Linked DNA regions of Homo sapiens: regions 2 and 3 are each linked to region 1. Evidence: fine-mapped expression QTL. A gene starts in region 1. Each other region holds a variant in brackets. All regions are shown on one strand. Distances are from middle to middle. Region 1 holds the start of ANKRD34A (ankyrin repeat domain 34A). Region 2 overlaps LIX1L (limb and CNS expressed 1 like). Region 3 holds the start of PEX11B (peroxisomal biogenesis factor 11 beta).

Region 1 (7,609 bases):
GCTTCTGGTGCTGTGTTTCGGCGAGAGAGAGGACCCCCGCTAGTCACTTTCTCCGCCCATGGGGGCGGGTCCTCAGGGCCTTCGGTGCTGTGACGTCGGGAAAGACGGGGTCGACCGGTCAGGGTCAGGCCATTGAATTCGGCAGTCAAGCGCTCGATCCCCGGTCTCCCTTCAGTGGGTGGGACTGGTTGAGGAGGGGCCACTAGGCCCCAGGGCTCGGAGTTGAGCCTTTTGAGTGGTTTTGGGGGATGGCGTGGTGGTTTGGGGAGCGGCTCGGAAGGGGATGGGTCATCGGGGGGCTTAGGAAGAGGGAATTCAAATACGTCCCGCTTCTCCTCTTCTTCCTGGGCGCGAGGGGATAACATCCCACGCCCTCCTCCTCCAGCGGTCTGCAGTTGGATTTCCGAAGGCGACGTGCAGAACCCCGGGCTAGGAGAGGCGGGAGCAGGGTCCTCCACCCCTGGGGATGGTGGAGAATTGAGATACTGCCGGGTCTTCTTGGTGCCTGAGGGCGAGGTATCGGTGGTGATGATGATGACCTCCGTACCCTTGGCCTTGCAGGCGTCCAGCAGTGTGGCAAGGGTCTCGCGGTCCCCGCGGTCCAGGGCGTGGACAAGAGCCGAGGCGCCCGCGTGATCTCGGACTGAGGGGTCTGCGCCGTGGGCAAGGAGCAGCGAGGCCACCGCGGCGCCCCCACCCCCGGCGCAAGCGTGCATGAGCGCCGTGCGCCCTAATCGGTCTGCGATATTGGGGTCCGCGCCTTGCTCCAGGAGGTAGCGTACCATGCGTGCCTTGTTCTGGGGGTCGTCGTAGCGGGCCCGACAGGCTGCCATTAGCGCAGTCTCCCCCTGCGCATCACCCTCATTCACGTAGGCGCCTCCCTCCAGAAGCAAACGGGCCAAGCGTAGCTTACCCTGACCCACCGCCCGAAGAAGAGCGTGGCCCTCGGTGTGCAACATAGCTGCGGCTGGGGCGAGGGCACAGATGGAGCCGGGACTGAGACCTGCCGAGGATGACTAGGGGTATGGGGAGGGGGAGTGGCTGGCAGAGGCCTGAGGTCTCAGTGACGAAGCCGATCCCTGCAAGAGAGACATCTCATTGATAGATTCGGCAGGAAAACTGAGGCACAGATGCAGGGACCCAGCGTGGGGTGGAGGAGACCTTCACGGCATACAGTCCTTCCTCTAACTCATGCCTTTGAGCCGGCCCTTCCCCCGCAGCGCATGCCTGAGGAGGTGGGAAGGGTGCACCCGCACTGAAGGACTAGCGCGCGTGCAAATGCGTTCGTGCACGCGCAGGGATGTCCGCACCCCCACCCTCACCCCATGGCTTATCAGACCTTTCCTCTGTCCCCCTTGTCTTATCCACACTTGGGATCCCCCTTTCTAGGATGCTGAACGCCACCCACCCACATACATGCACCCTACAGTCACACATGTATTCTCATTCCTAACCTGTTTTAGCTTGCCACAACCCCAAAAATTGAGTGGGGGGAGGGAAGCAGCCTGCATTTGAGACCTAAAACGGGTGGAGGGAGAATTGGGGGGTTCTATTGCCCCTGCGATGTTCCCCATCACTCCTTGCTCTTTCCCCTCCCAGGCTGTGTGCCCAGATAGATACCTGAATGTCCGCAGAATCTCCGCCTGGCCAGGATTGGGGCCGTGGCCACGGGGCAGCCGAGGTGGCGGAGCCAGTTTCCTGGGGGCCCGCATGGCGTGGGGGGGGGGGCACCCGGATTCCCTTGGTGTCAGTATCTGCGCCCCGGCGCCGGATCCTGGTCCCTCCTCCCGGAGCGCCCCGGGCACAGCGCCGGCTCGGGAGGAGAGAAGCTTGGCGGGGGGGGGGGGGGGGGGGGGGGCGGAGCTCTGCTGTGCTATTTATAGCCTAGTCACTGCGGGTGGGGGCGTCAGGCACCAAACTGCTCCCCCACTCATGCACACATAAACCCTCAAAAACCTAGAGGCTCCAATCCTGACTTCCTTTTCTCAGCCGACCTCCCCTCAGCCCCAACAAACCTAAGTGTTCCTTAGGGGACTCCTCCGCGACCCAGACAGGGACCATCATCCAGATTCTTCGCTGAGATTCAGCAGATCCCCATTCTCCGCACTTGGTGTGTTTGTGCGCTCCTGTGCGCCAGACCTGACCTGCCATACACGGCACATGGCACACTGTGTAAGAAAGGTGTAGAAAGGCTTTTTGGATCCACAGCCGGTGTCCATACTGTGCAAAGAGAGGCAAGAGATGTGGCTTTCTTCCTGTAGTTTAATTGTGAAGGAGATCACGGTCCAGCCTGGAGTCAGACACAGATACACCCCCGCCCCATCTCTCAAAAACGGAACACCCATCGCAGAGAAACTTGGACCTCAGCTCCCTTATGTAGACCTCTTAGATAAGTATGAGGAAGGTGGATATGGGAGCACTTTTAGATAAGGCAAGGGACATTCCAGGTGCCTCCACCCCGTATTATTGTGGGCAGGGAGATAGGACAGGGGCAGGAAGAAGAGCGAACCTTGTAATACACTCTCTCACATTGCATCTCTTTAATCTCAGTCTTGCTTAGACGTCTTATTTTTTCCATCTTGCTTGACGATCTCTGTCTGAAACATTCCTTATATCTTCTCTCTTCCTATCTGTCTATTGGTCTCTCACACTGTCTCTGCCTCTCCTTGCCACCTGCCCTGTCTCCATGGTTACCATAGCTTCCATCCACATATTTTAGGAATGAGTTTGTGTCCAGCTGGAAGGCACCAAGGGAAGTGGGAGAAAAAGAAAAATCCTAAGGATTTAAAAAGTTCACTCAGGGTCCTGAGCTAATTCAGAGGCTGGAGGCCCCCCAGATGCAAGATACTGAAAATAATGTTCCCGGGGATGGGAGAGAGAGAGAAATATTTGCAGGAAGCTACCCATTTTTACTAGTTATTTCTTGGACACGTGTCAACTATGTGCCATGTGCTTTACATACACTATTTTCAATCCTCACAACTTTATAAGATAGGAACTATCATCTTCTTGTTACAGATGAGGAAACAGACTTAATAAGGTTAAGCAAGCTCTCCAAAGCTTCACAGCTATGTTTCTGTCCTATGGCAAAGACTGGGAGCTTGCCACTACACCTACAGCCTCCCAGTCTACAGGCCATTTTCTCTGACATCTGGGATGTTCTTCTTGACTAACTCCTAGATTTCATCTCCATTCTGAACCTTTCTCCCTTGTTTCTGCTTTCTGTGAAAATAGGACTCCTCCTTCCACTCTGCTGGCTTTCCCAAGGAGCTCGCAGGAAGTGGAAAGTAGTGGAAAATGCAGAAAAAGCTGGGCTCCTGCCCTGTCTCCCCAACCCTGGTACGCTGATCCCAAATCCTTCCTTTCTTGAACCCTCTGCCCACCTTCTCACAGACACGGCAGCAACCCACAGAAAAACATTTTTAGAAAAGAAGTATCCATTGGTGGTGCTGGAGAGAGGCAGTGTATGATTGAAAGGAAGGCTGGAGTAATGGAGAGACCAAGCTATGAAGCTAGAGTCACAAAAAGACTGATCCCTAAAGAGCAGCTTTTACAGAGGTTCATTTCTCCGTAGGCCCTCTCCTCCTTTGGCCTCTCTGTAGGGGCTCCCTCAACACGGTCCCTCGATGAGATATGAGTGTCACGTTCCCTCGGTGAACTCTCGCCGGCTAGTGGCTCCTTCATCTGGAGTGAGACCGGAAATAAGTGACCCCAGCTGATTCTGCAACGCCCATCTCTCTCTGCGACCCGCTTCGCAAGCTTCGGTTCCGGGCGTACTCGCTCCCTCCCTCCTTCTCTTCCTAGGCTTCAAGAGGGCGGACTTCCCTCCTCGGCTTCTCCTGCATTGGCCGAGAAAACTCACCAATAGGGAGCTCCGGGAGGCGGGCTTAGAACGCCACCGACTTGAGGAAGCCCAGTACATTTCAAGTTGGTCGCGGCTTGGGCTCCGCTTTGGGGAGGGGCAGCAGGTAAGGCTTGACCTGGTTCGGTCCGACACTTGCCAAACTTGTTCACCCCGGCCAGGCTGCGAAATAGACAACGCTTTCCGTCAGGTTGTTGGATCAGCCCCCTTCTGGCTCCCTACCGTTTCTCCCCTGGGCTTCCATTTCTGTATTGATTGTATACTAGAGAATGGCAGTTTTCTATCGCGCATGGGGAGAGACATTAAAGCAGAAAACGAGACAGCCTCTTGTATCTGTCTTTGCTATAGCATCAACTTCCCCCTAATCTATTAATATTATCCCAAGAGCCTGACAAACTCCTGTTATCTATGAAGACTAGCTGAAATGCTACCTGTAGTTTTCCTGGGCCGCCTTTCTTGCAAAATGAATTGTTCCCCCGTCTACGATAGCGTTTTGTATATACCTTTATTAGGACACTTAGTGCACTGTCTCTCTTTAACGTTTCTATGCCTTTTAGAATAGAAGGTTTTGTAGGACAGGTGCTAGTAGTTAATATATAGTGCCCAATAAACGTTAGTTAAATAGAATTGATTTCTGGTAACTAGCACTCTTTTTGGGGAGGCAGAATTTAAACTCCTAACATAACTAGGGAACAATAAAAGACAATACAGTATGTAATTAAGAGCCATTAAATTAGTGGTTCATAATATTAGTGTTTCATAATTGTTTCTACAATCTAGAGAAGGAAGAAAGCAAGGAGAACTGGAATGGTGAGGGGAGGCTTTATGGATCACAATTTCTCAAGTTTGGAAAGGCCCATAGAAATGATGTATTTATTCATTCAATAAATATTTATTGAGCACCTACTATATGCCAGACACAATGCTAAATCATGCTGATCATAGGGAATCCTCTACTAGAGCCATGCATCCTTCTTACAAACCCTATGTAGTAAATTTTTACCCAGCTTCTATGTAAACATCTTTAGTAAGGGAACTCTCTTATCTCTCTTGTAGATCATTCAATTTTTTGATACCTGTTCTTTAGTCAATATCCTACAAATATTCTAAATAAGAAATATATAGCTAAAGGAAATGCATTCCACACTTCCACTGTAAAAGAGGGAAATATGGCTGGGCACGGTGGCTCATGCCTGTAATCCCAGCACTTTGGGAGGCCGAGGCGGGCAGATCGCCTGAGGTCGGGAGTTGGAGACCAGCCTGACCAACGTGGAGAAACTCTGTCTCTACTAAAAATACAAAAATTAGCTGGGCGTGTTGGCGCATGCCTGTAATCCCAGCTACTGGGGAGGCTGAGGCAGGAGAATCATTAGAACCCAGGAGGCGGAGGTTGCAGTGAGCTCAGATCGCACCATTGCACTCCAGCCTGGGCAACAAGAGCAAAACTCCCTCTCAAAAAAAAAAAAAAAAAAAAAAAAAGGAAATCTGTCCTTTTACAGTGGAATTGGTAGCATTCTTAAAAGCAAGCCATTTCTGGCTGGGCGTGGTGGCTCATGCCTGTAATTCCAGCACTTTGGGAGGCTGAGGTAGGCAGATCACTTTAGCCCAGGAGTTCAAGACCAGTCTAGGCAACATGACAAAACCCTGTCTCTACAAAAACTACAAAAAAAATAGCCAAGCATGGTGTCTCAGGCCTGTAGTTCCAGCTGCTCAGGAGGCTGAGGTGGAGGGTTGCTTGAGCTGGAGAAGTCGAGGCTGCAGTGAGCCAAAATTGCCACTGCACTGCACTTCAGCCTAAGCGACAGAGCAAGAACCTGTCTCAAAAAAAAAAAAAAAAAAAAGAGGCCGGGCGTGATGGCTCATGCCTGTAATCCCAGCACTTTGTGAGGCCAAGGCGGGTGGATCACGAAGTCAGGAGTACAAGACCAGCCTGACCAACATGGAGAAACCCCATCTCTACTAAAACTACAAAAAAAATTAGCCAGGCATGGTGGCGCATGCCTGTAATCCCAGTTACTCGGGGGGCTGAGGCAGGAGAATCACTTGAACCCAGGAGGTGGAGGTTGCGGTGAGCTGAGATTGCGCCATTGCACTCCAGCCTGGACGACAAGAGTGAAACTGTCTCAAAAAAAAAATAATAAAATAAAAAGAACATAAATAAATAAAATGGGTATTTTTTAACCATTCATTTATTGTTAGATTGTTTCAGTTATTTCAGAATTTTTGCTACCATAAATAGCTCTTTGATGAATATCCTTTTACTTATATCTGTGACTGTATATCTGTTGATGTCTTTGGAATATATTTTTAAAGTGGGATTGCTGGATTAGGGATATAAACATTTCAAAGGCTGTTGATTTAACTGGACAAATTGCTCCCCTTGAAATATTATGTTTATAGTCTTTCCAGTGAGGTATGAGAGTGTCCATTTGAAAAAAAACTCATGACAGCCTGCTTATTATTTAAATCTTTGTCACTTTCATAGGTGAAGAGTGGTTTTATTGGCCATTCTCTCTCCTTTTTTTTTTTTTTGAGACAGTCTTGCTCTGTTGCCCAAGCTGGAGTGCAGTGGTGAGATCTCAGCTCACTGCAACCTCCACCTCCTGTGTTCAAGTGAGTCTCATGCCTCAGCCTCCTGAGTAGCTGGAATTAAAGGTGTGTACCACTGTGCCTGGCTAATTTTTTGTATTTTTAGTAGAGACAGGGTTTCTCTATGTTGCCCAGGCTGGTCATGAACTCCTGGCCTCAAGTGATCTGTCCACCTCGGCCTCCCAAAACCCTGGATTACAGGAGTGAGCCACCATGTCCAGACATGGCCATTCTCTTTGCCAGTTGCCTGTTCATGTCCTTTGCCCATTTTTTCTATTGAGATGATTTTTTAAAATTTGGATTTCCAAGATTTTAAGGGTGTTAATTTCTTGCTTTATTTATTACATGTATAGCAAATTCTACACATCAGCGTGCCCCAGGCCTCAGTGCCTGGATTTCTTATTTTCTCTGTCCACATCCACTCCTTTAGGGGTCTCACCTAGTCTCATGGCTTGAAGTATTGTTTGTTTGCTGATGCCTCCACTGGAATGAAAGCTCCATTTAAACCCCGTGGGTGCAGCATGTTTTTGTCTGTTTTGCACACTGCTATATCCATAGAATCTAGAACAGTGCCTGGCACACCTAGTAAGCACTCAGTAAATATTTGTTGAGTGAAATGATTCTATTATTGTTATTTTTATTCCCATTTTACAGATGAGGAAACAGGTTTAGAGACAATAAATAAATTACCAGAGTTTTGTAGCTAGGAAATTGAACTGGGATTCAAAACCATATTCTTAACCTCTACATGTACTGCCTTCCTTAAATTTGATGTAATTGTTAGTGTTTTTCTGTATGTTTAGTTGAAACCTGCCTCTCAGTAACTTCCACCACAATATATATGTATGAATAATTGGGAATGAGCATAGTGTATATGAGTGTTGTTTGGAGTAAAACAGAGTACAGGGGTAAACTCTCTGGAAAGGTTGATGTTAAGGAGGAGCAGATTGTGACTAGATTATGGGAGACCTTAAGTATCCTCAAGAATTTTAACTCCATCACAATCTTTAATAGCAGAGACTCCCTATAGATTCCTAAGATGAATGGGGCAGATGGATGGTTTATTTCCCAACCTGTATTAAATAAAATTTTGTCTTCTTTTTCCCCTGCATTCTTAGAGGATCACTCATTTAATGTGTAGAAATGGTGTGGAATTTG
Region 2 (7,609 bases), 31 kb before region 1:
AATGTAATCCTTATAGCAGAGATAGTTATTTACAACTAAAATCCCTGAAGTTTAGCCCAATGTCTGGCTCATGGTAGACATTTGGTAGATACTTATCGAATGAATGAATATTAGAATGGCAGGAAATTCTGTCTGCCCGATGCTATGTGACTGGAAAATAAAGCTGGAAATACAGTTTAGGGTCTGCTGTGCTAAGGATTTTGGAATTTATCCTATAGGCAAGAAATTTACCTACTTCAAATATTTGAGTATTCATGGTTTTTAATATTTGAAAATAGCCTCCATACTAGTTGTTGCTTATTATTTTTCCTTAAATAGACTGACTTTAAACATAAATTTACACTGAAAGGAAAATCAGTATTTTTCTACTACGAATTCAGATAAAAGCACAACTATTAAAAACTGTTTGCCCATCTATCATCTAAAATCATCTCAGGAACACATATAAAACTGGGAAATGGTAGGCCAGGCATGGTAGCTCATGCTTGTAAACCCAGCACTTTGGGAGGCCGAGGCAGGTGGATAGTTTGAGTTCAGGAGTTCAATACCAGCCTGGGCAACACAGCAAGATCCACCTCTACAAAAAATTTAAAAAGAATTACTTGGGTGTGGTGGTGTGTGCCTATAGACCTAGCTACTCTGGAGGTTGAGGTGGGAGGATTCCTTGAGCCTGGGAGGTGGAGGCTGCAGTGAGCCAAAATCACGCCACTGCATTCTGGCCTGCTCATTAGAGTGAGACCCTGTCTCAAAAAAAATAAAAAAAAACTTTGGGAAATGCTGCTAAAGGTAAAGATAGTTCAGTGATGGCTTAAGCAAGGGAGTGTCACAGTCATAAGTATTTTATAAAGAAATATGACAGTAGTATGGAGGATGTTAAGAATGGAGGTGAAGACCAGCTAGGAAGCTATTGTAGTGATCCAGTCTGGAGATGAGAAAGGACCAAACCTAAGCTCAGGCAGTAAATATGGACAAAACATATTAGGAGGTAGGCCAGGCGCAGTGGCTCACACCTGTAATCCCAGCACTTTGGGAGGTTGAGGCGGGCGGATCACCTGAGGTCGGGAGTTCGAGACCAGCCTGGCCAACATGGTAAAACCCCATCTCTATTAAAAATAAAAAAATTTGCCACGTGTGGTAGTGGGTGCCTGTAATCCCAGCTACTTGGGAGGCTGAGGCAGGAGAATCTCCTGAACCCAAGAGGCAGTGGATGCAGTGAGCTGATACTGCACCATTGTACTCCAGCCTGGGCAACAAGAGCAAAACTCTGTCTCAAAAACAACATATTTACATTATGGTAGAGGAGTTGAGGGTGGATCTGAGGTGTGTGGCTTAGGTAACAGTGTAGATAATAATTCTAATAATAGATCGGCGGGGCATGGTGGCTTACGCCTGTAATCCCAGCACTTTGGGAGGCCCAGGCAGGTGGATCACCTGAGGTCAGGAGTTCGAGACCAGCCTGGCCAACATGGTGAAACTCCATCTTTACTAAAAATACAAAAATTAGCTGGGCGTGGTGGCGGGCGCCTATAATCCCAGCTACTCAGAAGGCTGAGGCAGGAGAATCGCTTGAACCCAGGAGGCAGAGGTTGCAGTGAGCCGAGATCGCGCCATTTCACTCCAGCCTGGGGGACAAGAGCAAGACTTCGTCTCAAAAATAATAATAATAAGAATAATAATAATTCGAATAATCTAGAGAGTCAAAGAGGAATGAGTATGGAGAAATGTTTTTTATTTTCGATATGTTTCAAAGTGCTTTTGTCATATTCAGATGGCCGTGTCAAGTATGTGGAAAGTAAATGTAAAAGCTTAAAACAGGTTGGGGAGGAAGAAATAGATTTGAGAGTCATGTGTATAGTGGAGTTCAAGTCACCATAATGGGTGAGATTGCCAGTGGGAGTAGGTAGAGCTTGAGGAGAAAAGACCAAGGACAAACTCCAGGTTAAATATCTGCAGAAAGGGAGGCAGGCTGCCTTATGCAATCATTTCTACCACCCCAAAAATGCTAATAAAATTTTTTTTTTTTTTGAGATAGAGTCTCACCCTGATGTCCAGGCTGGAGTGCAATCACTCAGTCTCGGCTCACTGCAACCTCCACCTCCTGGGTTCAGGTAATTCTCCTGCCTCAGCCTCCCAAGTAGCTGGGATTACAGGCGCCCACCACCATGCCCAGCTAATTTTTAATTTTTTTTAGTAGAGATGGGGGTTTCACCATGGTGGCCAGGCTGGTCTCGAACTCCTGACCTCGTGATCCACCCGCCTCGGCCTCCCAAAGTGCTGGGATTACAGGCATGAGCCACCGCACCTGGCCTAAAAATTCTTCTTTAGTATATATGTAAAAGAACAGGGATGTTTTAGAGCTTCTTGTGGGGAAAAGAAAGGGAGACCAGATTGTTACTGTGTCTGTGTAGAAAGAAGTAGACATAGGAGGCTCCATTTTGTTCTGTACTAAGAAAAATTCTTCTGCATTGAGATGCTGTTAATCTGTAACACTACCCCCAACCCTGTGCTCCCTGAAACACGTGCTGTGTCAACTCAGGGTTAAATGGATTAAGGGCTGTGCAGGGTGTGCTTTGTTAAACAAATGCTTGAAGGTAGCATGCTTGTTAAGAGTCATCACCACTCCCTAATCTCAAACCACTTCCTAATCTCAAGTACCCAGAGACACAAACCACTGAGGAAGGCCGCAGGGATCTCTGCCTAGGAAAGCCAGGTATTGTCCAAGGTTTCTCCCCATGTGATAGCCTGAGATATGGCCTCGTGGGAAGGGAAAGACCTGACCGTCCCCCAGCCCGACACCCGTAAAGGGTCTGTGCTGAGGAGGATTAGTAAAAGAGGAAGTAACACCTCCTTGCGGTTGAGACAAGAGGAAGGCATCTGTCTCCTGCTCGTCCCTGGGCAATGGAATGTCTCGGTGTAAAACCTGATTGTATATTCCATCTACTGAGATAGGGGAAAGCCACCTTAGGGCTGGAGGTGGGACATGCGGGCAGCAATACTGCTCTTTAAGGCATTGAGATGTTTATGTGTATACATATCCAAAGCACAGCACTTAATTCTTTACCTTGTTTATGATGCAGAGACCTTTGTTCACGTGTTTACCTGCTGACCTTCTCTCCACTATTATCCTATGATCCTGCCACATCCCCCTCTCCGGGAAACGCCCAATAATGATCAATAAATACTAAGGGAACTCAGAGGCTGGCGTGGATCCTCCGTATACTGAACGCTGGTCAGCTGGGCCCAGTTTTCTTTCTCTATACTTTGTCTCTGTGTCTCTTGTTCCACCTAACGAGAAACGCCCACAGGTGTGGAGGGGCAACCCACCCCTTCACTTTTGTAATATATAGGTCTCAAGAAAGAGTCAGTCTGGCTCACTAGACAAAAATCTATTTTTAATTGTATAAAATTATACATATAAAATACATAGAATGTACTAAGAAGATGAGTAAAATCTTTGACACCAGAAGTGGACAGATCAGGAAACAATTTTTCTCAAGTTATTTGGGATCTTACTGGTTGGTATTTGAGAAAAATAATAAATCCAGGAGGTACGAGGGCAATTCTTCCCACAACTCACACCCCTTAATCCACACGTCCCAGAGAAAGGAGAAACAGGAGTGTTGATGAGTGCCAGCTTATAAATGTCAAACAGACACACCTGGTGTGTCTAGCTGTTTTTGCCTTTACTCCAACCCGACGTGTTTCATGGAATACAAACATGGGGCTTCTACCCCAGCTCTCTTCTGATTAGTAAGAAAAAAAAAATGATAGGGCCTGGAGAATTCAAGGAAGCCCGTTTCAAGCACTAATAAAATTGTAGCTGGATTCCTTACCTCTTACCCAACATGATTTCAAAAGCAAGAAAGTTGCCTTTCATCTTGCCCCTATCAAATCCAAAAGAGCCAATTATAGCCTGTTTCATAATCTATTTTTATTGTTGTTGTTACACTTGAACTTTCTGTTTGGAACCTAATCTATTTCTAAAAGCAAAGTCTGTATAATTGTTAAGTGGGAAGTCCAATTGCAGGAATACTAAATGTTCCAAGCTCAGTTTAGAAAGTACATGGGACAATAATATAGTATAAATAAGAGATCACAGAGACAAGGGGGAAATATATA[TTA/T]GAGACCTCCAAAAAAATTCTCTGAAAGGAGAATACTTTAGCTGCTGTACTACAGGTTATTTCTCTCTTATGTCACCCAGGAGAGAAGTGGGGGAGAATGGTGTTAAAAACACAAATAGTGCCGGGCGCGGTGGCTCACGCCTGTAATCCCAGCACTTTGGGAGGCCGAGGCGGGCGGATCACGAAGTCAGGAAATCGAGACCATCCTGTCAAACACGGTGAAACCCCGTCTCTACTAAAAATACAAAAAAATTAGCCAGGCATGGTGGCGGGCGCCTGTAGTCCCAGCTACTAAGGAGGCTGAGGCAGGAGAGTGGCGTGAACCCGGGAGGCGGAGCTTGCAGTGAGCCGAGATAGCGCCACTGCACTCCAGCCTGGGCGACAGAGCGAGACTCCGTCTCAAAAAAAAAAAAAACACACAAATAGTTTGGGAGGCCGAGGCAGGTGGATCACGAGGTCAGGAGATGGAGACCGTCCTGGCTAACATGGTGAAACCCCGTCTCTACTAAAAATACAAAAAATTAGCTGGGCGTGGTGGTGGGCACCTGTAATCCCAGCTACTCGGGAGGCTGAGGCAGGAGAATGGTGTGAATCTGGGAGGCGGAGGTTGCAGTGAGCCGAGATCGCGCCACTGCACTCTAGCCTGGGCGACAGAGCAAGACTCCGTCTCAAAAACAAAAACAAAAACAAAACCAAAAAAAAACCACAAATAGGCCAGGCTCAGTGCCTCACGCCTGTAATCCCAGCACTTTGGGAGGCTGAGGCGGGTGGATTACCTTATGTCAGGAGTTCAAGAACAGCCTGGCCAACATGGTGAAACCCTGTCTCTACTAAAAATATAAAAATTAGCCAGGCGTTGTGGCGTGTGCCTGTAATCCCAGCTACTCGGGAAGCTGAGGCAAGAGAATCGCTTGAACCCTGGAGGCAGAGGTTGCAGTGAGCCGAGATCACGCCACTGCACTCCAGCCTGGGCAAAAGTGTGAGACTCTGTCTTCCAAAAAAAAAAAAAAACCACACACACACACAAATAACTGATCATTGATTCTCTTTCCCTTCCTGCAGTCTCCCAAGGTGTCAATTAGGAAGTGCCAAAATACTAAAGTCTCATTTAATTTTCCTGATCAACTTATGTTCTAATAATTAATGTGGAAGGAGAGGAAAGAAAGAGAAAACAAATGAGAATCTAAGGTAGTAAACAGCAGCAACTTAGCGGGAATAAGGGGAACATGGTTCTCACTAACCAAATAGGACTGATAACGCTTCCAAAAAATAAAATGTTAGGTGAAGGGAAATATGGAAATATGTTTTACTTTCTACTAATAGCTGCAGGCAGGAAGGTCCAAACGCAGGGTTTAACTAAGCTGGGGGAGTAGGGGAGATGTTTAGAGGGAATACTGAAAGAGAATCAGTTTCAACCATAACCCCCATCTACTGTAGAGTATATCCAGAAATCTAGACTACTAGTATGGTATACATATGCCCTAGAAGCAACTTAGGTAGTAAACTCCCATGAATTGTTTGTAATTTATCTTGTCCCTGGGCAGTTTCTTAGGAGGGGTTTCAGAAGCAAGATCTCTACTTCCTTCAGAATAATAAGGTAGGGAAGGAAGCCTCAAAACAAAGTGGCAATTTGGAGGCAGAGAAGGAATAAGGTAGTGGTGGGGAGGAAAGGGATAGCAAGCAGGTTCAGTTCAGGAACTAAAGGCAAAATCTTCATACTCATACCCTGTTTGAGTCCAAGAGGAAGCAGGAATGAGAGTAAGGGTGGGGCACATAATCCTTATTCAAGTTACCTGATATTTGAAAAGAAGGACACATGAACACTAGAGTTAATCTTTTAGTGCTACTGAAATGGCTACACAGTTAATCTGGAAGTTTAAGAGCTAACAAAGCTGCAAAGACAAGCTGCTCTTTGTTGTAAAGTGGACTGAAGATGTTTCAAATAAAACTACATCCAAAAACTGGTAGTAAGAAAAGGGATCTCTTAGCAAATAGGAATCTAGGTGTAGAATTTATACACATATATATTTTTTAAAGTATAAAAATGAGAAAGTATGTACAAAAAATCATCCTAAATCTTAGAAAGGAGACATAAAAAAAGGCTGTGGAAAGCCTGGGGAGTTATGTGGGTGGATGCCTAGCAGTTGGAAGAATGCATATTGCCCAACTGCCCAGCAGCCAGCACAAGAATATCTTTCTTCTCCTTGTGGAAGCGCAGCTCCTTGCCTGCCAGTCGGGCTTCATCCAGCTCCCGCTCAGTAGAGGCCAGCTCTCTAGACAGTGCCCCCGGCACACTCTGCTCCCGGCTCACCCAGTCCAAGGCCATTTGGTGGCGAATATCATCATCCAGGGCCCGGTGCGAATAATGAGCCAACACCTCCTAGTAGGGGAGGGGAATGTGAACATCATTGAGAAGGTAAAGGTTCATATCATACCACACTGACCCAACTGGGACTAAGAACTCAGCTTTAGAGACCTAACTGAGGTCAGCACCTAAGTTCTTCAAGGAGATTCTTAAAGGCACTTCCTGCTACGGGAAGCAAGATAGACAAAAGAATCACAGCTAATATTTACACAGGAAAGATTATAGGAATGAAGAGGGTACTTAGGTAAGGCTTTCAATATTCACAACCATAGGTCACAATAGACCTTATTTCTAACATAGTAACCACCTCAAAAGAGTCCACTGACAGATTGTGCTCCCCTCATTCGCCCCCACTCATAAAATCTCTTACCTGCCGAGAGCATTGTCGTTCCCTCATGGCCTTAAGGCTGCCATTCCAGTGTAGCAGTTGAAAAACTGTCATTAGCTCCTGGGGGAAGAGGATAGGAAGTACCAGGACAGTGATTTTTATATTGGGAGGTTGCATCAGAATTACATGGGAAACCTTTTACAAAATGGATTTGTAGAAGCATCTCTCATCACTAACTCTGATAGGCCTTTGGGGAAGAAAAATATTTATTTATTTATTTATTTATTTATTTATTTATTTATTTATTTACTTACTTACTTACTTATTTGAGACAGAGTCTTGCTCTGTCACCCAGGCTGGAGTGTAGTGGCGCAATCTCAGCTCACTGCAACCTCTGCTTCCTGGGTTCAAGCAATTCTCGTGCTTCAGCCTCCCAAGTAGCTGGGATTACAGGCATGTGCCATCATAGCTAATTTTTGTATTTTTAGTAGAAACGGGGCTTTGCCATGTCTCAAACTCCTGGCCTCAAGTGATCCACCCGCCTCAGCCTCCCAAAGTGCTGGGATTACAGGCCTGAGCCACCATGCCCAGCCAGGAAGGTATTTATTTTTGAAAAATAGTGTAACAACCTTCTTTCTTTTCCAGTATCAATGAGTTAGGAATTAGTAGGAGCCATTATATATTACAGTAGCAGGCTGACCCATGTTATTAGAACCAGGGAAGTACATGGGAAAGTACCTGGAACTCCAACATTGATTTGCCCTTGTTGGATTCCAGCATGAATCGGAAGGCACC
Region 3 (7,609 bases), 47 kb before region 1:
TCAGTAAAAAATCCATGTTTTTTATTTGTAATCCAATCTGACAATGGTGGTCTGTACTCAATAACTTGTACTACCTTCAAAGTATATCCTGAACCCAACCAACCACATCTCTCTATCACACCGCACTGCCATACTCTAAGCCACTAACATCTCTTGTCTGGACTTCTGCTTTAATGTTTTAACTGGTCTCACTGTGGCCATTGTTGCCCCCACCCCCAACAATCTATTTTCATATAATAGCTAGCATAAACATAAATCACATCATTACTTCCCTTCTTAAAACTCTCCATGGTTGGCCAGGCGTGGTGGCTCACGCCTATAATCCCAGCACTTCGGGAGGTGGAGGCAAGTGGATCATGAGGTCAGGAGTTGGAGACTAGCCTGACCAACGTGGTGAAACCCTGTCTCTACTAAAAATACAAAAATTAGCTGGGTGTGGTGGCGCGTGCCTGTAATCCCAGCTACTCAGGAGGCTGAGGCAGCAGAATCACTTGAACCCAAGAGATGGACGTTGCAGTGAGCTGAGATTGCACCATTGCGCTCCAGCCTGGGCGACAGAGCAAGACTCCATCTCAAAAAAAAAAAAAACCAAAAACAAATAAACAAACCACAGCTCTCCATGGTTTTCTTCCTGTCACATTCATAATAAAATATAAATACCTTAGAGAGGCTTACAGACTCAACATCTGGTCCCTACCCCTCTAACTTTACCTTGTATCATTCTTTCCTGCAATCATTATGCTCCAACCATGTTGGTTTCCTTCTACATTTTAATCCCATCAAGCTTGTTCTTGCCTTAGGACCTTTGCACTACCTATTCCCTCTACCTGGAATATTCTCCCTCCACCTGGAATATTCTCCCTCCAAAACCCTCACATAGCTAGCTCTTTCTTGCTCTTCAGGTATGAGCTTAAGTATCACCTCTTCGGAGACGCCTTCCCTTATCCCTAAATCTAAAGCACTGAGTCAGTTACTCTCTACTCCATAACACTGTTTTAATTTCCTGCATAACATTTACCAGTATCTGATATTTTAATTTATTGTTTATTTATGTTTATCTCATCCCATTACAAGGTAAGTTCCAGAGGAGCAGAGGCCTTGTTTGTCTTTTCTTTTTTTTTGAGACGGTATTTCACTGTTGTTGCCCAGGCTAGAGTACAATGGCACGATCTCGGCTCACCACAAACTCTGCCTCCCGGGTTCAAGCGATTCTCCTGCCTCAACCTCCCGAGTAGCTGGGATTACAGGCATGCGCCACCACACCCGGCTAATTTTGTATTTTTAGTAGAGACGGGGTTTCTCCATGCCGGTCAGGCTGGTCTCAAAACTCCTGACCTCAGGTGATCCGCCCGCCTTGGCCTCCCAAAGTGCTGGGATTACAGGCATGAGCCACCGCACCTGGCCGGCCTTGTTTATCTTTAACCACTGTATCCCTGTATGTACACTGGTGCCTACCATATAGTAAGAGCTCAGTAAGTATCTGTTGGATGAAATGAATAAATATAACATATAGACTCCTTTAGGGAGTTGCTTTTCCATACTGCTCCAGCCATGCCTCTGCTCCCACCCCTCATACATCATAAGCCATGTTAAAGTTGTAAATCACTGAGAAAGATGAAGGGAAAAGCAAGGTTAATATAATGAAAAAGTACAATCATAGGAAAACGAAAAACAATACAGATAATATGTTAGAGAATTTTACTCCCACATCATATTTCTCTCTACCTTTATTGTCAGCTACCTCCTTTGTCCAAGCCAACGTCATCTCTTGCTCGTATTAGGGCATCTCCTCCTCTCTTGACCCACTGCAATCCATTTTCTTTTCTTTTCTTTTCTTTTTTTTTTTTTTTTGAGATGGAGTCTTGCTCTTGTCACCTAGGCTGGAGTGCAATAGCACGATCTCGGCTCACTGCAACCTTTGCCTCCCGGGTTCAAGCGAGTCTCCTGCCTCAGCCTCCCGAGTAGCTGGGATTACAGGTGCCCGCCACCACACCTGGCTAATTTTTGTAATTTTAGTAGAGACGGGGTTTTGCCACGTTGGCCAGGCTGGTCTTGAAGTCCTGACCTCGTGATCCCCCCAACCTCGGCCTCCCAAAGTGCTGGGATTACAGGCGTGAGCCACTGCGCCCGGCCTGCAATCCATTTTCAACATCTCAAAAAGAGATGTCCTTTAAACACAATTTGAATCATGTCATTTCCCTGCTCAGAATCCTTCAATAATGTCCCATTGTAGGATAAAATAAAACAAACATTAACATTGCCTAAAAGGCCCTGTATGAAAGATCTGGTGCCTGTCTATCTCTCAAATTTGAACTGATGGACTCAATACTGTCAATCACACTGGCTTTCTTTCTATTTCTCTAATTCCCTTAAGTCTTTCTTAGTTCAAAGCCTTACTTAGAATGTGCAATTTTCTCTGTTTGGAAATGTCTTTTCTGCTACTGTTGGCTTTGTCTAACTCCTCCTACTCAGACATCAGGTCTGAGCTAAAATATTACTTTCTCAAAGAGTTTTTTCCTGATTTTCCAATCTAAATTAGCTCCCCTTGTGATATTCTTTCATAATACCGCATACTTTTCCACAAATATATATGAGAAGTTATTCATTGTAGTATCTAACTCCCTCACTAAACTAGAAGCTTCATGGGAGCAGGCACATTATCTGTTTAGCTCTTTGCTTTATCCCCTGCGCCACAGTAAGCATCTAATAAATATCTTTGGAATGAATGAGTAAGCAGGTAGTGAGGGGGAATAACCTGTGGTATAGAAGCACAATTAAAGTGATATAATATCTTACCTTGCACAATATTAGTCATTCATTATGGAAGAGCATCTGTCTTCCATCTCTCCCCATTTGATATTCTCCGATAGTTTAAGATCTAAGTGATTGGAAGCCAAGTGACTGATCAAGACTTATATACTCTGGAAAGATCCTAAGATATCTTTCCCTCATATAAGACAAGCTATGCAATATAGAGGCTACAAAAAAAAATCTTAAAGGAGAACAGGATATCAAACCTGAATGAACGCTGGGCCCACTTCTCCTGATCCACACGGGGAGCCAGTCCAGACTTTCCAGCCCACAGGACATTGTCACAGGCGAAGTACAAGGCTCGATTGAGGTGACTAACAGTGATGCAGAATCTCAGGACAACATCTGATAGGTGAACAGCTCTTTTGGCTGACTCAAGGGCATCTGCTGAGTTACCCAGGCGTAGAACTTGTGGAGATTAGAAAGGGAAAGCAAGGATTTGTAAGTGGAGAGGCAGATAACAAGAAACAGAAACAGAGAAAGCAAGAGGGCAAAAGTTGAGCAATAATAATGACAATTTTTTTAAAGAGCAGAAACAGGCTGGGCATGGTGGCTCAAGCCTGTAATCCCAACATTTTGGGAGGCCGAGGTGGGTGGATCACCTGAGGTCACGAGTTTGAGACCAGCCTGGCCAACATGGTGTAACCCCATCTCTACTAAAAATACAAAAATTAGCCCGGCATGGTGGTGGGCACCTGTAGTCCCAGCTGCTCAGGAGGCTGAGACAGGAGAATTGCTTGAACCTGGGAGGCAGAGGTTGCAGTGAGCCAAGATTGCGCCACTGCACTCTGACCTGGACGAGAGACTCTGTCTCAAAAAAATAAAAAATAAAGAGCAGAAACAGTCCATTTTTCAATTTCAAATTTAATTTTTGTGCCAGTTTAGTTTTCTCAAACTTGACCCATTCTCTCCAGTCCGCCTAATTACTTCCATACCCCTGCTCTCTTATCTCAACTGGACTCATGCAGAGGGTAAGTGCAGAGCCAAATGAGAAAGAAGAACAGAGAGGGTACAGGAAGGAGGGACAAAGGAAGGTGAGCTGGGGATGGAGGAAAGGTTGGGGGATAAAAGGAAAGACAGAGTTACTTACGCTTTCTTCCAAGGCTCAGGTGGCTCTCCAGTTGTCGAATCTGTTTCTGTAACTCAGGACTGGCTCCATGCCTCTGCAGCGCATGGCCAAGAAGAGAGCAAGCATACTGGGCGGCCCTAGAGGAGAGGGCAGGCAA[G/A]GTAAGGTGGAGACCTCCCTAACCTTCCGCTCAAAACTATCTTCCAAAAGGCACAGACAGACTTCCCCCTTTCCCAGTTTGAGAACACTCCCCTTCCTCCTCCATGCCCATATCTCACCATTTCTCCAGGCCAGAGGAAGGGAAAGGCATAAGGAGAAAAAAGAGTCTAGAAAGGGGTGGGGAGCACTATTGAATGTTGAGCAAATTAGAGATTTGACAATGATGAGGCCTGAAGGGGCCAGTGCAGGCCGCAGGGGTCCATCACAAGCACATCAGCGTGAGCATGTACGTGATCGATGAGGGGGAGGCAGACAGTTGGAGGGCATTTTATTCCTCAGAATAGGTGAACTGAGAGATTTCAAGGCCCTCTAGCTGAATGGAGACCAAACGCCAGGGCGGAGGCAGGGGAGTTCCCGAATGGCAGCACGGTGTGGGGACACGGAAACTGGGAGTGCCTCCTCAGCTCTGGGGGCAGAGTCTGGGGCTATCCACCGTGGGGCGAATGCTCCTCATTCCATCACCGCCCAGTGAGGACACTGTCGGTCTTATGTGGACACAGCAACCCTGAGCGGCCTCCCCGCTGGCCCACTCATGCCTCAGTTTCCCCATCTCTTCCGCGAACGGAAAGGAATCATCTCAACAGCGGCTCAAATCTGCGCCTCACGGTCCGTTCGGGCCCCCGTAGCCGGAGTTGACCCTTCTTGACCCCCCTGTAGCCTAAACTGACTTCGCCTCACTAGAGTCTTCCTCTGTCCATCCCTCCCCCGCCCCACCCCCATTCCTATTCGGGCCGCACCTACACAGCCGCTCCCGGGCTTGGCTCTGAGCACTGAAGCGGACCCAGGCGTCCATGACAGCCGCAGCCCAGGCTCCGCGGCCCTGCTCCCGCCCCACTTCCCGCCCCTAGTCACGCCTACTGCGCGACCCAACGGTGCCTCGCGAGGGACAAACAGTATCAGAAAAGAAAGCTTGGCCCTGGAAGCGGAATTTCAGGACGCGAAACTCGTGTCTTTTGAGCCTCCATCTGTGTATTACTGTGCGTGTCTGCGTCACAGCTTCCCCTTATCAGACGACCCCTACTCCCTAGCACGCCTCCAGCGGCACCTTCTTCTTTAAATATTCATGACCAAGGGCGGGGCCTGCAGGGGCCGGGGCGGGGCGAGAAAGCGCCGCAGTGATCTCCACGTCTTGGAGGCCGCCGGCATAGGTGTGCGCCTGGCAGAACCTCACAAATACACATGCACGCAGGCCCCGACTGAATCCAGGGCTGTAGGGGCTAAAGAGGTCTAGGTCAGTAGAGGCCTGAAGCCCAGGCTGGTCTGTCCAAGGAAAAAGGAGCGTGATTGGTACCAGATCTTCGTTCCCTGCAGAACCTTGACAGTTGAACAAGTGACCTCCTCCAGAACAGATGGAGAGTCTCCAGAAGCAGAGGCTTTAGTGAACGAAATTCGCAATAATCAGCTCCAGATCCTGAAAAGGAGGGCGAAGAATCAGTGGCCAAAGCTAACCGCTTCATACCCACACTTCATCCTCCTCAGTTTCTCTCCAGGCCACCATGTCTGCAGGCAACGGCACCCCTTGGGGTCAGCAGCGGGGGAGGAGGTCTGGGCTGGATCAGGAGTGGAGGTGGAGGGCTCAGAGCTGCCCACCTTCTCGGCAGCAGCCAAGGTCCGAGTGGGAGTGACCATTGTGCTGTTTGTTTCTTCGGCTGGAGGGAACCTGGCAGTCCTGTGGTCAGTGACACGGCGGGAACCCAGCCAGCTCCGCCCCTCTCCGGTCAGGAGACTCTTCATCCATTTAGCAGCCGCCGACTTACTAGTCACTTTTGTGGTTATGCCCCTAGATGCCACCTGGAATATCACTGTTCAATGGCTGGCTGTGGACATCGCATGTCGGACACTGATGTTCCTGAAACTAATGGCCACGTATTCTGCAGCTTTCCTGCCTGTGGTCATTGGATTGGACCGCCAGGCAGCAGTACTCAACCCGCTTGGATCCCGTTCAGGTGTAAGGAAACTTCTGGGGGCAGCCTGGGGACTTAGTTTCCTGCTTGCCTTCCCCCAGGTGAGTGACCTAGGACTCAGGACCGGGCAGGACAGGGATTTGGGTCCATAGCATGAGTTAAAGGGTGCGCTTGGGGGCCATTAGCCATTAATTCTCAGGGAGTAAGCCTCTGCTTGCTTTTTTTTTTTTTTGCCGGCTCACTGCAACCTCCGCCTCCCGGGTTCAAGCAATTCTCCTCCCTCAGCCTCCCGAGAAGCTACAGGCGCCCGCTACCATGCCCGGCTAATTTTTGTATTTTTAGTAGAGGCGAGGTTTCACCATGTTGGCCAGGTGGTCTCCATCTCTTGACCTCATGATCCACCTGTCTCAGCCTCCCAAAGTGCTGAGATTACAGGCGTGAGCCACCGCACCCTGCTACCTCTGCTCTCTCTTCTGTAAGATTATTTGTATGTTAATTTACATCTGTTAAGAGCCTGCCTTTTCGATTCCTCAGGGATCTAGAACTAGAAATACCATTTGACCCAGCCATCCCATTACTGGGTATATACCCAAAGGACTATAAATCATGCTGCTATAAAGACACATGCACACATGTTTATTGCGGCACTATTCACAACAGCAAAGACTTGGAACCAACCCAAATGTCTAATAATGATAGACTGGATTAAGAAAATGTGGCACATATACACCATGGAATACTATGCAGCCGTAAAAAATGATGAGTTCATGTCCTTTGTAGGGACATGGATGAAATTGGAAATCATCATTCTCAGTAAACTATTGCAAGGACAAAAAACCAAACACCGCATGTTCTCACTCATAGATGGGAATTGAACAATGAGAACACATGGACACAGGAAGGGGAACATCACACTCTGGGGACTGTTGGGGGGTGGGGGGAGGGGGGAGGGATAGCATTAGGAGATATACCTAATGCTAAATGACGAGTTAATGGGTGCAGCACACCAGCATGGCACATGTATACATATGTAACTAACCTGCACATTGTGCACATGTACCCTAAAACTTAAAGTATAATAATAATAATAATAATAAAAGAGCCTGCCTTGTAAAAACAGTATCCTCTATCTGTGCCTCTTCCATTACATCTGTTTTATTACACGTGGTTTCTACCTCTTTGCATCCTCCCAATCTCACCTCCTTCAGATTGGGGCAGGGAAGAAAAACATACATGGGGATCTATTAAGAGAGTGAAGTCAGTGGTTTGGGTAAAACTTTGTGGTACATTTCATTTATCCATTCAAAAAGTAATATGCATCTCCAGCGCCACTCAAATTTTGCTAAGGACAGGGCAGCAAAATCCTGCCTTCAAGAAATGTATAGACTACTGCAAGAAACAAAGAAATTAGGCAATTACAATATAGTGTATTCAAAAGTGTTATGCTAAAGGAGCTAAAGAAGACAATGGGGGTGGGGAGTGGATAGGGGTGTCTGACACAGCCGTGCAGTCAGGAAAAGCTTTCCAGATGTTAAAATTTGATTCTTCAGAGATAGGTGTTAGACCAATTAAAATAGGAGAAATGCTAGGGAGGATGGAGGATAGAGGA

Evidence for each region. PIP is the estimated chance that this variant, and not a neighbour inherited with it, causes the effect.
Region 2: its variant is the best candidate, but not a certain one, in a credible set for the expression of ANKRD34A in whole blood (TOPMed, PIP 0.73).
Region 3: its variant is the best candidate, but not a certain one, in a credible set for the expression of ANKRD34A in whole blood (TOPMed, PIP 0.56).

The regions. Positions count from the first base shown.
Region 1 is chr1:145,960,801-145,968,409 of GRCh38, forward strand. It overlaps ANKRD34A (ankyrin repeat domain 34A), which reads right to left and starts at 3,775. Exons shown (of 4, transcript NM_001039888.4): 1 at 3,384-3,775; 2 at 2,510-2,737; 3 at 1,621-2,168; 4 at 1-1,079. The coding sequence starts at 959. It overlaps POLR3GL (RNA polymerase III subunit GL), which reads left to right and starts at 3,890. Exons shown (of 8, transcript NM_032305.3): 1 at 3,890-3,968. RefSeq lists enhancers at 132-967, 169-218, 3,617-3,786 and a silencer at 3,007-3,301.
Region 2 is chr1:145,930,052-145,937,660 of GRCh38, forward strand. It overlaps LIX1L (limb and CNS expressed 1 like), which reads right to left. Exons shown (of 6, transcript NM_153713.3): 4 at 7,553-7,609; 5 at 6,857-6,934; 6 at 3,372-6,501. The coding sequence ends at 6,259. All of the region lies in intron 2 of LIX1L-AS1 (LIX1L antisense RNA 1), which reads left to right. Among named protein-coding and RNA genes, the nearest start is that of RBM8A, 6.4 kb to the left of the region's middle. The variant TTA/T (reference allele first, on the strand shown) is at 4,120.
Region 3 is chr1:145,913,800-145,921,408 of GRCh38, forward strand. PEX11B (peroxisomal biogenesis factor 11 beta) reads right to left here and starts at 4,918. Exons shown (of 4, transcript NM_003846.3): 1 at 4,834-4,918; 2 at 3,902-4,017; 3 at 3,018-3,219. The coding sequence starts at 4,889. It also overlaps the pseudogene GNRHR2. RefSeq lists enhancers at 4,071-4,617, 4,618-5,165, 4,964-5,063, 5,444-5,503, 5,554-5,653. The variant G/A (reference allele first, on the strand shown) is at 4,038.